Regions from separate parts of the Homo sapiens genome. Here region 1 is linked to region 2. A link means that fine-mapping ties the variant in region 2 to the expression of a gene that starts in the linked region. Tissue or cell type: minor salivary gland. Region 2 holds a variant in brackets; the other region holds the start of a gene. All regions are shown on one strand. Distances are between the middles of the regions.

Region 1 (8,103 bases), 34 kb before region 2:
AGCCAGGATGGTCTCAATCTCCTGACCTCGTGATCCGCCTGCCTCGGCCTCCCAAAGTGCTGGGATTACAGGCGTGAGCCACCGCGCCCGGCCTTAATTAAATTTTAAATGATGTTTTGGCAAGTTTGGATCATTTATGCTTCTGAAATTATGAAAGCTTAAAACTGCATTAAGATTTTGAGGACACCCAGTCTGCCGGGCTCAGATGTGACAGATTTCAACATCTAGCCCTAAGTGTAAAAAGACAGCAGTTTTTTCATGGGGCTGGATCTAAATAGAGTCCTCTTTTCCTTCCCTGGCTCCCCAACTCCCTCTGCCCAATGTCCAGTCCCAGCGCAGCCAGAGAGATTCTACATGCTTTCCTTCTGGCCACATGCGCATGTTAAAAGAGAAAGGCAGGCAGAAGGCAGTGTTCTTGGACTGGTTGAGAGCATACTTCGGTTCTTGCTCAGTCACTTTAACTCAATTCGGCAGACATTTCCTGAATGCTGACACTATCCTATCCACCCAGATACACCTGGGGCCCTCACGCAGGTCCTCTGCGTGTGCTCCTGGCTGCGTCTTCGTCTGTCTGTATGGTCAGTTTACTGAGCTCTCATCACATGCCATACCCATGAAAAAGATGACGGGGTCTGCACCATAGAACACATGATCATTAGCTCTCTACAAAGCCGTGTCCCATTTATGAACACAACTGCCCCCAATACCACTAAGACTGCTATGATCATACTACCTCCATCTGGAGAGAAAACCTAAGGCTCAGGAGGGTAAGTGAACTGCCCGAAGTCACAGTAAGTGGCAGAGGTGGCCTGAAAGACCAGGCAGCAAGCCCAGGCTCCCACCCTGCCTCCATCTTGACCTGCCATGTCCTAGCCGTTTGCTTGGTGGTTACTCAGCACCTGGGACCTTGAGGTCCTCATCCAAAGAGAAAAAAAATTAAGGTCTCTATAAGATGACTTTCCATGTATAAATATTAGAACCCTAAGTCTTAATTATAAAACCTCTGTGCAGTGGGCAAGGAGACCACCCATGTCACAGGAGAGGCTGTCAGGGTCTGGACAGCAAAGCTAGCTGAGGGGCAGCAGCCAGTGGTCACTAAGGGGCTGGGAACTTGTTAGTCTTCTCTTAACAAGATGGTTGCCAGCTTTTGTTGGACAGGGCCCTGACTCAGGTGTAGAGGATCTGAGCTGGAGCCTACATCTGCTAATGTCAAAAAAGTCATTAAAAACTAAATGACCTCAAAGCACCTTAACTTCCCAGAATCTGTTTATCTGTAAAATGGATCTAATACCTAACTCAAAGCATTGGGTGGAAAGTTAAATAAGACACCAGATATGAAAGCTTCATCCCTGCCCAATTGTAGAAAGGTTTCTCTGTGACCTACTAATTTGCACATCAATGCTATTATACCCAGCCCCCTCCTAAACCCATGCTCCTTTAAATATGACCATCAACCCACCCATTTATGTTCATAAATTCACTCCAACCTTCTCTGGCTCCTCACCCCATGGCTGCCTACTTTACCAAGTTCCCTGATAACATGCCCTTAGGTTTGGTTCTGAGATTGGAATGATTTTTTTTAAATCTTCTTCCCTCTATATTTTTGTATTACTTATTCAATTTTTTTTCTTTTTTTTTTTTTTTTTGAGACGGAGTCTCATTCTGTTGCCCAGGCTGGAGTACAATGGCGCAATCTCGGCTCACTGCAGCCTTTGCCTCCCAGGTTCAAGTGATTCTCCGGCCTCAGCCTCCCCAGTAGCTGGGATTACAGGCACATGCCACCATGCCCGGCTAATTTTTGTATTTTTAGTAGAGACGGAGTTTCACCATGTTGGCCAGGCTGGTTGTGAACTCTTGACCTCAGGTGATCCACCCTCCTCGGCCTCCCAAAGTGCTCGGATGACAGGCACGGGCCACTGCGCTTGGCCTTGACTATTCTTAAAATATTCTTGCATGCACATGCAGACACTGACCTACACATCATTACCACCACTACCACTCAAACAGCCCACCTGAGGGGCCTAGCTGGCAACCCCAGGATATCCCCCACTGAACACTGTGACCCTGAGCATGCCACTGCCTCTATAAACTTCAAGTTATCTCATCTGTGAAACAAGAAGTCAGGCCAACTTGACAAGACTCAAGCCCCTTCCACGGGTAGCATTCTGAGAAACCATGGGTATGGTGCAAGAGAAGGACAGACAAACATACTCTGTCCACCATCCTGCCTAAACCTTTGTGTATGAGGCTGACAAGGGTTACAATGGGTGACATTCACAAGGAGAGAATCTCTCCCTTGTTCCTTGCAAAAGCCCTGGGAAGTAGGTGCACCTATCTCCACTAAACAGATGAGCAAACTGAGGCACAGAAGCCATTTCTCTCTGCCTCCTACCCCACCCACGGCATCACCAGCACTGTTTTAAACACCATCCCTTCACTCGAGTAACTACCATGTGTCAGGCACTATGCTAGACCCTGGGAGCCTCGGGCACAGTGTGAGTAAGTCCCAAGTGGGCCCTCTCTGCTAGAAATCAGGGTTGCAAATACAGACCCCACCTCATCCTCCTCCCTCTCTCCTCAGAGGTAGGTGCTTCAGAGAATCCTAACATTCATGGAGCACCCAAGCCCTCTCATAGGAGGTTAACACATTTCTACTCATGTAATCCTCATCACAGTTCTCCGAGTTAGATTCTATATGTTATGACAGATGAGGAAAGTGAGGCGCAAAGAGGTTAAAAAACTTACACCAGGTCATCCCACATCCAGGTAGTGGCAACCCAGATTCACACGCAGTAGTTATTCTGATCCTAAGTATGTGCTCTGGACCGCTACATCCTAAGGCCTCCTCTTTAGGGACTGATCTCCCAAGGCTCAGAGAAGAGCCCTGTCTCCAACATGCAGCAAGCCTGAAGCCCAGTCGGGCGGTGACCAATCGTCCTGGTTTGGCCAGGCCCGAGGGAGTTCCCAGGACGCCGGACCTTAAGTTTTAAAACTAAAACGAGTTGGTCACCCTAAGTCCAGGACTCCTGCCACTTCCCCAGAGCAGGAGTGAGATCTGAATGGAACTCCTTCCTCCATGCGTAACCCAGAGGGGCTGACGGTGGAAATCCCGTCCCTCCCCTACTCACTCTCTGAGCCCCAGCCTCCCAGGTCGGACCTCTGGGCCACCACCCCTCACCTCTCAGCCAGCGCCCGCCAACGGTTTCAACCGGCCGCGGGGAGCACGTGGACTCGCCGCCGCCAGCCCAGCGCCGCAGCTACCTGCCTCTCAGGCTTCGCGGTGCAGAATTCGCTTCTGAACCACCCAGCGCGCCTGCGCACCGCGGCCACGCCCCCCCCAGTGGAAGTGACGCCAACGGAAGCAGGAAGGCGGTTCCGGCAAGCCAAGGGGGCGTTGTCGTGATGATTCCGCGGCCAGCGGATCGCTGCGAGTGGCCTTGAAGGCAGCTGCTGCAGGTGAAGAGTAGGCGGCGGGGCAGAGAGCGGCCTCCGAGGGTAAGGTGGCCGGCCTTGCGAAGGCGTGCGGGGCTGGCGCTGGTGGGAATGGCCCGGAAGGGAAGGGAGGCCGGGCGCCCGAAGGTGGCCCAGAAGGGCATGGACCCACCGCTCCTTCCCGTCTCTGGGCACTCGAGGATACCCGGGGGGTTGGCGGCTCCTGCGAGAGTCAGCGAGCATTTGCTCTGTGCCGGGCATCACAGGGGACGCGGACTGAGACCCAGACGGCCAGGTTCCGGGCCTGGGAGCCGGGCCTTCTCCCTGGTGCAGCTTCCTCGGCCTGGAAACCCCACCCGCGCCCTCTCATCTCCAGGCTTTGCCCGCTGGAAGCCAGCCCGGCCCGCCTCCGCTACGCGCTGCCCATCTCTCGGCTTCTGTTTCCTTCCACGCTGTAGTTGAGAGTAGCGCTTAAGACGACAGAGCCCACAGCCTAGCTCAGTTTCATTACGGTGTGGCCTCTTTGTGCCTCAGCCCCGCATCTGTAAAGCGAATGTCATAGCGGCACCTGCGTCCCTGGAACCTTGTCGTATTTCATGAGTTGGTGCATGTAAATCGCTTAGACTAGTGGCTGCCACTTAGTAAGTACTCAATAAACGTTAGCTCTTCTCAGCCCTTAAAACAGGGTCTGGCACACAGTGGTGGTCACTAGGTGTTTGTTGCTTAAATGAATGAATGAAAGTTGAGTGGAGGATGCACAGAGTATTGTGAGAAACCTTCACTCCCAAGGTGTGTGTATATGGGTGATAAGGTTTCACTCTGAAAGTGAGCAGTGTTGGGCCTGGAATAGAAGGTGTATTAGTTTGCTAGGACTGCAAACAAAATACTGGGTGGCTTAAACAACAGAAATTTATTATTTTCTCACAGTTCTGGAGGTTAGAAGTCCAAGATCAAGGTGTCTTCAGGTTTGGTTTCTTCTGAGACATTTCTCCTTGGCTTGCACGTGGCTGCTTTCTTGCTGTGTCCTCGCATGGTCTTTCCTCTGTGTTTTCACATCTCTGGCGTCTCTCTTTGCATCCAGATTTCCTCTTTATGAGAACGTCAGTCAGGTTGTATTAGGGCCCACCTTAATGGCCTCATTTTAACTTAATTACCTTCTTACAAGCCTGATCTCCAAATACAATCACATTCTGGAGTGCTGGGGGAACAGTTTAACCATAACAGAAGGAATTCACAGAAATGGACAAGGAGGGAAATACTTTCCAACAGAAGTGACAGAATGGCCAGGAGGCTTAAAAGCAGGGTGCTCAAGATGTTTTTTGTGTTCAGGGCACATATGTGTACTTCAGTCTTGTTTGTGCTCTCGTACTGTTTTTGGGTTTGGTTGTTGTTGTTTGTTTGTTTGTCCTCCTGAATACTCAAAGAAAGTGAGCCCTCTCATTTTTTTAGTCTGGCAAACTTAACTCACATTTCAGCATAGATGTGTCTTCCAGGAAGTTTTCCCTGACCCTCCCTCCCAAATTAATTTCTGCTTCCTCCATTTAATAACTTTGGTACAGGGCTGGGTGCGGTGGCTCACGCCTGTAATCCCAGCGCTTTGGGAGGCCGAGGCAGGCAGCTCCTGAGGTCAAGAGATAGAGACCAGCCTGGCCAACATGGTGAAACCCTGTAAACCCCATCTCTACTAAGAGTACCAAAATTAGGCGGGTGTGGTGGCGCATGCCTGTAATCCCAGCACTTTGGGAGGCTGAGGCGAGTGGATCATTTGAGGTCAGGAGTTTGACACCAGCCTGGCCAACATGGTGAGACCCCCACCCCTCGTCCTTACTAAAAATACAAAAATTAGCTGGGTGTGGTGGTGCATGCCTGTAATCCCAGCTACTCGGGAGGCTGAGGCAGAAGAATCGCTTGAACCCAGGAGGTGGAGGTTGCACTGAGCCGAAAGCACACCACTCCACTCCAGCCTGGTCAACTGAGCAAGACTGCGTCTCGGAAAAAAATAAAAAATAACTCTGGTACAGTGCAACGATACTTGTTTTTCCCACTAGACTGATGCTTCATGAAGACATGGATGACCGTATCTGATGTGTTTGCCATCGTACCTTCAGTGCCTAGCGCATAATGGGCATTGTGTAAAGTTAAGTGAATGATGGAAAACTGAGACACAGAGCCTGTGAAGAGTAGGGAACACATCTGTTCCGTTTGTCAGCATTCCATCCTCGCGACAATCTGTTGCACATGTTAGGCACACAGTATCTGTTTAACCCAATTGGCCTTCCCAGTATGATAAGAGTCAGCATAAAGCTAAGACAAGATTCCAGGTTTGTTGCTTCAAGCCAGTGCTTTTATGAGTAGGGTGGAGGTGAGGAGCTACAAGTAAGCCATTTGGAAAGTATGATGATGGGCAGACTCCTTAGGAGCCCTCTGAGGTAAGCTTGACTTTAAGGTGCGTGAACTGTGGGCCCTTGGAGAAGTAATCTATTAATGGCACTGCTGAAAAAACATCCACAAATTCTATCCAGTAGTATTTGACCTGTTGGTAGAATTGAGGGGCCTTTGCTCTAGGAGTCCTCTCTGCAGGTTGAAATTCCATTCTGGCTGTTGTTTTCTTTAGAAGCATTTCTTCATTCACATTGATCTAAACTTTTTCTTGTTTCTTTTCCCCCCATATTTTCATTTTTTGACGCCATTCATACCATCTTTCCACCATCACATTCCTTGTATAGATTTGTAGCTTTTAGAACTAGGAAAAAACCTCTAAAAGAGATCATCTAGTCCAATAGGGGACCTCTCCATTTTTATAGATGAAAAACTGAGGCCCAGAGTCTCATCCATCCAGAAATATGTATTGAGTGCCTATTATGTCAAAGACACTCTGCTAGGCACCAGAGATACATTGTTCAATAAGACAGATGGAGTCCATGTCTTCACCACAGAAAATTTTTACTGCTTGTCACTAGGTGAGTTAGTCGCAAAGATGGAAGAGAACCTTCTGCTCCTTCTCTCACGCTATAACACCTTGTGTAGCACATCTTAGTCCTGAATTGTGCAGTTCCTTAATGCAAAGCTTGTCTGTGGGATTACCTGGACAATCAGGCATAGGCAGTAGACTGAAGAGGCAGCTGATTCCGATCAAAGGAAACAGTGGTTATGAATGCGGCTTTGGTGTCAGATTCCCTGGCTCTGAATCCCACCTCTGTCCCTTATTACTTACCTATTTTTAGCTGTGTGACCATCTTCTCTGTATATGGTCAGGTTTTCTGTTGCTGTGTAACACTCTACCCCCAAATTTAGTGACTCAAAAACTATTTTATCTCATAATTCTGCAGGTTAGGTATTCAGGCAGGTGTCAGCTGAGAAATTCTTCAATTCTATGTGGTGTCAACTGGGATCACTCAGTGGCATTCAGTTGGAGGAGGGGCCAGCCTGGAGAGGTCAGGATGGCTTTCCTGGGAGCCAGCTGAACCCTTCTCTGTCTCCATGTGTTCTCTCTAGCTGGGCATCTTACAGGTGGCTCAGGCCTTCCATAGCCACTGTTCTGAAAGATGGGAAGTGGAAGCTGTTAGCTCTTTAAAGGCCTGGGCCTGGGAAATGAGCACAGCTTTGTAGCACAGAATCTGATTAAGGCAGAGCCTGTGCAGGAGGGAAGGAGACCTAGACTCCACTACCCCATGGGAGAATCATCGGAGAATTTGTGGCCATCTTAAATCTGACAAATTCCTCATTGTCCTCACCTGTAAAATGTGGATAATAGTAGCACCTATCTTATGGTAAATGAGTTAATAAGTGTAAAGGGCTTAGAATAGTGCCTGGCATCTAGGAAACATAAGTATTTGTCATAATCATTACTATTATTAGGTATAAGATACATTTTTGTTTATAATTGACAGAACACATAAGAAATGTAAGATACAATTTTTTTTCCAGACCTTTTTATAACCTCATTGGGGTTTCCAGACCTTTTAATAACCTTATTGGGGTTTCCAGACCTTTTTATAACCTTACTGGGGAGGTACAGGATTGACATCATGAAGTAATTTAGAGAACTATACAAAATGATATGGAATAATAATAATTATTATTTTGAGATGGAGTCTCGTTCTGTTGCCCAGGCTGGAGTGCAGTGGTGCAATCTCGGCTCACTGGAACCTCGGCCTTCTGGGTTCAAGCGATTCTCCTGCCTCAGCCTCCAGAGTAGCTGGTATTATAGGCATGCGTCACCACGCCTGGCTAATTTTTGTATTTTTAGTGGAGATGGTTTCTTCGTGTTGGCTAGACTGGTCTCGAACTCGTAGCCTTAGGTGATCCGCCTGCCTCGGCCTCCCAAAGTGGTAGAATTACAAGCATGAGCCACCGCACCCAGCCTCTAATTCCTATAGTAAAAGTAAATTGTGTAACAGTTAATAACTGCCTAGCATCATAACTCTGGGGGTCATTCCAAATAACTTTTTCCTTTATCACTTCTATAGAGCTAGAAAATGTCTAATTTTCTAATTAGACATTTACCTAATATACCTAGACATTTACATTTGTATAATTAGACATTTTTACCTAATTTTAACAGGTCTGTGGAGGAGGGTTTCGTGTGTGTGTGTGTGTGTGTGTGTGTGTGTGTGTGTGTGTGTGTTTAATGTCTTTTTTCCCGTGGGCGATAGCATAGCATAAAAGCAT
Region 2 (8,103 bases):
GCTTCTCCACGGTAGAGGCGTGTTCTCAGTTTAGCAGGCTGGTGTTAAGGCTGTAGGAGGACCCAGTTTCCCCATGACAGTGCCTTCTAACTAGCCAGAGAATAGGTAGCTTCCCTCCTGATGATGGCTCATAATCTGAAGCATCTTGAGCTGGGGGTGTGAGGGGGAGGGCCTGCTGGCTCACCGTGAGGCAGCCGCGGGAGGGAGCGCTGACGTCACAGAAGCGAAGGCTTGATGCTGTCTCAGCAGCCTCAGCTGTGGGGGGGAAGCGCGTGTGCATCGTGTCAACTACTGTACATGTTGGTCATGTGAAAGGAATTATATATGTATAGTATTACAAGTATTTTTGCATTTTTACAAGATTGAAATTTGTAGCATTTTGTATTATTTACACAGAATTTATTTGTATATGAAACTCATACCATAATTTAATTCGAATAAATGAAACTTTTCTATATATTATATGTTTCCTCTAGCATTTTTATTAATCTAAAGACTATAGGGGTATAAAAATAAATAGCAGCGAGGACTCACTCTGCAAGGATAAGAACCTCATTGGTCAGTCTCCCTCCTGGTACAGCGGGTTTCTCAGTGGTCAGAACTGCCTGACTCCTGGCTGCCACTTACTGGCAAGGTCATGGGTGAGCTGTTCACCCTCTCAGGATCTTCTCTGGAGTTTCTTTTTTGCAGTATGAGAGGAACATCTTCCAGTATTTTCACAAGGCTTGTCTGATCTGAGCACTCACTTGAAAATACCTGCCCGGCGCCTGGCCCTTGACAGGGCGTTCTAAATATTTACTTCCCCTTCCCAGCGGGCTTGACAGCCTCTGCAGGAAGGAGATGTGCCCGTGGCTCTGTCGCTGGAATATCAAGGTGAGACTGGGGATGTGGCACGTCACAGGTGATCTGCTTATAGCACTGCCTGCACGGAAGACTGGAGAGCACCCTACACGGAGGACTGTGTGGAGAGCACCCTCGAATACTCGTGAGCAGCTCTAACTCAGAAGTACAAGATACTCAACGAGAGACCAGTGAGGAGGAGAGGATTTTCATAGAAAAACAGCACAGTTGCAGAGTAGGGCATCAGCTCTGAAGTCCATTACAGGTGCATTTCGTGTTTTCCCATCCATCAGCTGCACTACGCTTCTGCCAGGCTGGCTCAGCGAGCATCTGTTGTCCCCATTGCACACATGGAGTGAACTTGGAACACAATGGCCGCACGTGAGTGCAGATCTTCCTCCTTCCTCCCCATGTCCTCTCCTCTCATGGCCTCCTCTGGCTCCTCCCTCATCCCAACTCGTGTAGCTCTTCAGCCTCCCAGCACCTACAGTGCATCCATCCCCTTAGCTGTCCCTGTGGACCCTCCTTGGCCATGGTTCACCCACCAACCCCTTTATCCATTCCACCTGGTGAACCTCCAGCACTACACACAGGGAGCCCAGCCAGGCTGGTGAGAAACAGCCATTCTCTAGTTTCTACAGCTCTCCTGAGCCCCCGCCGTATCCTACAATCCCCTCTCCTTGATCCAGGCGACGTGCTGCCCTAGGCACTTGTGTCACATCTTCTCAGACCTCTGCAGCTCGCCTGTCCTCCTCCTTATGGCCTTGCTTCCTATTTCTCTCAGAACCTAGAAGCAAATAGGGGCCAGGCGTGGTGGCTCACACCTGTAATCTCAACACGTTGGGAGGCTGAGGCAGGTGGGTCACTTGAGGTCAGGAGTTCGAGACCAGCCTGGCCAACATGGTGAAACCTCATCTCTACTAAAAATACAAAAATTAGGTATACTGCCACATGCCTGTAGTCCCAGCTACTCAGGAGGCTGAGGCACGAGAATCGCTTGAACCTGGGAAGCGGAGGTTGCAGTGAGATCGCACCTCTGCACTCCAGCCTGGGCAACCGAGCAAGGCTGTCTCAAAAAAAAAAAAAAAAAAAAAGGAAAAGAAAAAAGAAACAAATAGGAAAGAACATTCCTCAAGCTCCCATAACACCTCCCTACCTCCCCACATCTGTGCCCGTGGACTCTGCACTTTCCCATCTAAAACCAACCTGCCCCCAACCCCTTGATTTCCCACCTCTGCTTTTTCTCACTAAGTCTTATTATCACCATCTGACCTACTATATAATCTTCCCCTATTACGATGTAACCTCTTCTTTTTTTTTTTTTAAATAGATACAGAGTCTCACTATGTTGCCCAGGCTGGTCTCAAACTCCTGAGCTCAAGTAATCCTCCCGCTTAGGCCTCCCAAAGTGCTAGGATTACGGGCATGAGCCACCGAGCCTGGCCAGGATATAAACTCTTTGTGTCTCTTTTGTTCACTGCTTTATCCTCAGTGCCCAGAACAGTGCCTGACCCTAAATGCTCAGTAACAAATAGTCAAATGAATGTCTTTGGAATACTTTTTAGTCAAAATACTGGACCTCCTAGATTGATTGATTTTTTTCTCCTGAACCTTGTTCATCAGACTCCACTGAAATACTTTTTGCCCAGGTGGCCCACGACCTCCCCATTGCTAAACCGAGTGAGAATTCTCAGTCCCCTTCCTAATGACTCTGAGGCAGGATATGACACGTCGGCAGCAAGTGCATTCCTTTTTTCTCCTTGAAACAACAACCAAGAGGACCACTCCTGCTAGGATTCCCCTTCATGCACGGGTGGCTCTGTCTTGGACTCCTTCCCCTACCCCAACACACATCTTAAAGTTGGGGTGCCCCAACTTTAAGAACACAGGCCCTGGACCTCCTCTCCGGCCTTGGCTCTGTCCCTAGGCCATCTCCTCAATGACAGAGCAGGAGCACTGTCATCTTGGACAAACAACTCCAAAAGTTCCAGCTCCCTTTCTAACCTCATGCGTTTCAAGGAAATGCAGCCAGGAAGAGCAGACAATGAAACACAGATAAGACAGCTTGAGCACAGAGGGAGGAGGGAAAGTCTCTTCGTAACCACCAAACTTCACCCTCATACAATGGGCCCCAGTAAAACAGTGGGCCCTAATAAGCACATTTCTTTCCCTTTAGGCATGCTGAGATAGGGAAGCTAAAAGCAAACTCGGGTGGTATGCCTGCAGCTGCAGGAAGATGTGTGGGAACAGATGCAAAAACTCTCCCTCCCAGATAAGCAAGACAAAGAGACACAGAAACATTCCGAGCCTGTGATAAGCTCTCCCACCCTGAACCCTTAAATACTCTTATTTTGTAAGAGAGAGGGCCTCTGACCTAAGTCGGCCAGAAGCCCCTCTCAGGTTTATTTTCCAAAATAACCTATCTTTGACTGTTGAGTGGCTTTTCATGTTTCTTTCCTCTTTATTTAACTCTTACACTCACATCTCATGACCTTAAATACTGTCTGCCCATGACTCCTCCCAAAACTCTGGATTCCTGTCCTGAGCTGCCTACCAGCGTCTTCACAGACACCCCAGACTAAGAGCTTTCAAGACCAAGCTCCTTGTCTTCTCAATTCATGGCCACCTTATTAAATGGCAATCCTGTTCCTCCAGGATTTTACTCAGACTAAAAACCTTAAGAGTTATCTTACTTCATCAGTATAAGTATGGAGGTGCCTCCTGTATGCCAGGTGCTGGATTTGCCAAAGGCTCAGAAAACAAGACCCCTAGGCCAAGTCACATTTTTGAATAAATCTGCTTGATGAGGACAATAATTTGCTCTTGTAGAATAAAACTTTAGGGAATAGCATTAAAACCAAAGCTCTCAGCTGGGCTCAATGGCTCATGCCTGTAATTCCAGCACTTTGGGAGGCTGAGGTGGGTAGATGTCAAGAGTTCAAGACCAGCCTGGCCAACATGGTGAAACCCCATCTCTACTAAAAATACAAAAATCAGCTGGGTGTGGTGGCAGGTGCCTGTGATCCCAGCTACTCAGGAGGCTGAGACAGGAGAATCGCTTGAACCAGGAGGCGGAGGTTGCAGTGAGCTGAGATAGTGCCACTGCGCCCCAGCCTGGGCAACAGAATGAGGCTCTGTCTCCAAAAACAAACAAACCAAAACCCCAAAGCCCTTTTCATTCACATTTCCTGTCTCTTCCTTTTCTGTTCTTGTTACCCTGGCCCCAAAGCCTTATCCTAAAGAAAGAAAATCTCAGAAGAGGTGAAAAGGCTTGCATATGCATGAGTGCAAACTTGGACAGCAAATTATCTGACAGCGGACCAGACCTTGACCTTGTGCTGTAGACACAGCATGGGCCATCCACAGCAAGAATAACAGTGTGTGTGTGCGTGTGTGTTCCCGCATGTGTGCACACACCTTTTATCCCAGTCAGGACACCAGGACTGTGTTCTTGGCTCCATCGCTAGCTGACTGTGCGACAAATGCCCTCTTCTCACTGGTCTTCAGTGTCCTGACATGCAATGGCTACAGAATTTCCATTTTAGAGCTCTATGATTTTCTAAGAATGGCCCATGGCTAGGTTTCTGTAGAACCTTCCAGCGTCAAGACCTGGCTTCCATTACCAAGTTGGAAGCAGAGGCCAAGAGGCTGGGCAGATCATCAGAAAACCCCCAGCATCTCAAAATGTCTGAGTGGAAAGGGACCTTAGCAACTGTACCCTATTCCATGGGCTTCAACCTTTTGTGACTCAGCTGGAAGACTTGTTGACAATGCAGATGTTTGGAAATGATTCTATAGGTTGGGGCAAGGCCTAGGAATCTGCA[G/A]TTAACTGGTTTTCTAGATGATTCTGAGGCAGGGAGTGCAAGGACAGTACTTGAAGGCATGCTGATCTAGTGTGAATCCCGCATTGTACAGACACCCTGAAATGTGAAGTGACTTGCTGGATAATAACAGTAGCTAGGACATATTGTGTCTATCATGTGCCAGCACAATGGTAAACGCTCTGCAAGTCAACTCAAGCTTCATAAGAGCCCTGTAAGGTGTATCTCATAATTACCCCACGGACAGTTGGGGAAAGTGACTCCCTGAGAGGTCAAGGAACTTGCCCAATACCACCTAGCCAGGAGAGTTGGGTCCCAAAGTTCCAGGATGACCTGGTGGCAAGCCCCAAGCCAGGATCAGATGCAGCCTGGAATGGAGCGCAGGGTTCACCTGCCGGGTTGTGATGGATCTGGAGAGACACCTACTGCTATTGTATTCATGATACTCATCACCCATCCTGCTCCAGGAGCATCTTGCATTCTTCCCTATTATTTTAACTACTTTTTGAGACAGGGTCTCACTTTGTTGCCCAGGCTGGAGTGCAGTGGTGATCACGGCTCATGGCAACCTCAACCTCCCATGCTCATGTGATCTTCCCACCTCAGCCTCCCAAATAGTCTGGGACCACAGGGAAGTACCACCATGCCTGACTAAATTTTTTTTTTTACTTTTTGTAGAGATGGAGTCTCACTATGTTGCCCAGGCTGGTCTGGAACTCCTGGCCTCAAGTGATCCTCCCACCTCAATTTCCCGAGTATCTGGGACCACAGGCATGCACCACCATGGCCGGCTAATTTTTAAATTTTTTTTTGTAGAGACGGGGTCTCACTATGTTGCCCAGGCTGATCTCAAACACCTCAACTCGAGAAATTCTCACACCTCGGCCTCCCAAAGTGCTGGGATTACAGGCGTGAGCCACAGTGCCCAGCCACTTCTTTTTTCTTAAATTACTCAAGTAATAATACATGGACAACAGGAAAATATATCAGAAAATACAAAGAAGTAAAAAGGAAAAAAGGCCTTCATGCATCGCATGCGTTCTCTCGTGAAGTCCCTTGACAATCCGATACGGCGGCACACTGTTCACATCTCAGTTTATTTCCTATCAGACATTTCCCTCTGCAATCAGACAAAAAGAAATATAGACTCTTGAAGGTTTTTATTTTATTTTATTTTATTTTTTTGACAGAGTCTCACTCAGTCCCCCAGGCTGGAGGGCAGTGGCGCTATCTCGGCTCACTGCAAGCTCTGCCTCCCAGGTTCACGCCATTCTCCTGCCTCAGCCTCCCGAGTAGCTAGGACTACAGGCGCCCGCCACCACGCCTGGCTATTTTTCTTTTCTTTTTTCTTTTTTTTTTTTTCTGTATTTTTAGTAGAGACGGGGTTTCACAGTGTTAGCCAGGATGGTCTCGATCTCCTGACCTCGTGATCCGCCCGCCTCGGCCTCCAAAGTGCTGGGATTACAGGCGTGAGCCACCTCTCCCTGCGAACGCTTTTCAAAGTAGCTTATACCGTACAACCTACTTTGTAATCCGCCTTTCATGTAGCAAATTGCCATAAACACCTTCCCTTGTCAGAAAACGTGTGTTTCGACACTGACTCTGAATCCCTGTGAAACTCCGGTCACTTTCCTTCAGCTCAGGACGTCTGTGAAGGCCCCACATGGTTCTGAGCAGGCGGGAGGAACTCGGTCCAAGCCCCTCTTCCCTGAACTCCCAGGGCTACAGCGTTTCCTTCCAGCCGCCAGATGACAACATAGCCACTGGCAACAGGCAGAGACGTGGCCCGGCTGTTCCCCGTGTTAAGGCCACCAGCAGGGGCAGCATTTCTGCAACCCTGGGCAGCTGACCAAGCACACTGGGGACCTTCCCCTTCGACCCCCAGGGGCCCGTTGGAGAGTGGCACTCTCTCTTGCCCCGGTTTGGAGGCGCGTGTCCTGAGAAGGGAAGTCGGTCAAGTATTTTTCACCCTGTTGAGCTGACTGTGGCCTGGACTTTAGCGTTCAGGCTGGAGCTGCCCTAGGAGCAACCCAGCCCGGGGCCCCACCTCCCAGCTCCCAACAGGCGCCGCATCTGACAGCAGCGTGAACTTGGCCAAGCTCCCGGGGGGGCCTCGGTGACCACGCCCGGCCTATTATCCCATTTTTATGAAATGTCCAGAGCAGACAAATCCACAGAGACAGAAAGTAAGTTAGTGGTGACCAGGGTCTGGGGGAGAGGGAATGGGGAGTGACTGACTGCTCACTGGGTTTCTGTGAGGGTTGATGAAAAAGTTCTGGAACTAGAGACTGGTTGTTATGGACTGGACTGTTTCCCCCTCCCCCTAAAATTCACATGTTGAACCCCCTAATCCCAAAGGTGACTGTATTTGGAGCTGGGGCAGTTAAGGAAGTAATAAGGGTTAAATTAGGTCATAAGGATGGGGCCCTGACTCCATAGGATTGGAGTCCTTAGAAGAAAAGGAAGAGACACCAGATTCTCTGCCTCTCTCTGCACATGCGGAAAGACCATGTGGGAATACAGAGAGAAGGCTGGGCTGTCTGCAAGCCAGGAAGAGAGGCCTCACCAGAAATCAATGCTGCTGACACCTTTTTTTCCTTTTTTTTTTTAAAAAAACCAAAAAAAACAAAGAGACAAGGTCTTGCTCTGTCAACCAGGCTGGAGTACAGTGATGCACTCCTGGCTCACCATAGCCTCCCCCTAGGCTCAAGCAATCCTCCTGCCTCAGCCTCCTTAGTAAACTATAGGCACATGCCATCATGTCTGGCTAATTTTTATTTTTTGTAGAGATGGGATCTCACTTTGTTGCCCTGGCTGATCTCAAACTCTTGGCCTCAAGCGATTCTCCCTTCTGGGCCTCCTAAAGTACTGGGGTTACCAGTGTGAGCCACTACAGCCAGCCTGCTGGCACCTTAAACCTTAGACTTCCAACCTCCAGAACTGTGAGAAAAAAACCGTAATCCCCCCAGCGTGCGGTATCTTGTTATATCAGCCAGAGCAGACTAATACAGTGGGGGTGGTTGCACAACCTTGTACACACACTAAATGCCACTGAATTGTACACTTTAAAATGGTGAAAATAGTAAATTTCATGTTGTGTGTATTTTACCACAATAAATAATATTAACAGCCAAGTAGCCCTATCCCACAGGACTGCTGTGAGGATGACATGAGTTTAGCTGGTGTCCAGGTGGCTGCTTCCAGAGTCTACACCCACGGGCTGAAGCTGAATCCAGCTCCCCTGTAGAGCAGAGTTCAAAATGGAACACAGTCTCCTTCATGCCGCTTCTTGCCACAGAAGTGGGAGCAGCAACTACAGAGCCTGGTGTTCTGGGGCTGCTGCTTCAGTTCAGCTGCTTCTTTTTTTTTTTTTTTTTTTTGAGATGGAGTCTCATTCTGTCGCCCAGGCTGGAGCGCAGTGGTGCAATCTCAGCTCACTGCA

What was found. PIP is the estimated chance that this variant, and not a neighbour inherited with it, causes the effect.
Region 1: ZBTB49 starts here. The variant in region 2 is fine-mapped to the expression of ZBTB49 in minor salivary gland (GTEx, PIP 0.92).

Annotation. Positions count from the first base shown.
Region 1 is chr4:4,286,858-4,294,960 of GRCh38, forward strand. ZBTB49 (zinc finger and BTB domain containing 49) reads left to right here and starts at 3,394. Exons shown (of 8, transcript NM_145291.4): 1 at 3,394-3,495. LYAR (Ly1 antibody reactive) reads right to left here and starts at 3,297. Exons shown (of 10, transcript NM_017816.3): 1 at 3,179-3,297. RefSeq lists enhancers at 1,246-1,784, 1,785-2,322.
Region 2 is chr4:4,321,325-4,329,427 of GRCh38, forward strand. It overlaps ZBTB49 (zinc finger and BTB domain containing 49), which reads left to right. Exons shown (of 8, transcript NM_145291.4): 8 at 1-459. Among named protein-coding and RNA genes, the nearest start is that of ZBTB49, 35 kb to the left of the region's middle. The variant G/A (reference allele first, on the strand shown) is at 4,665.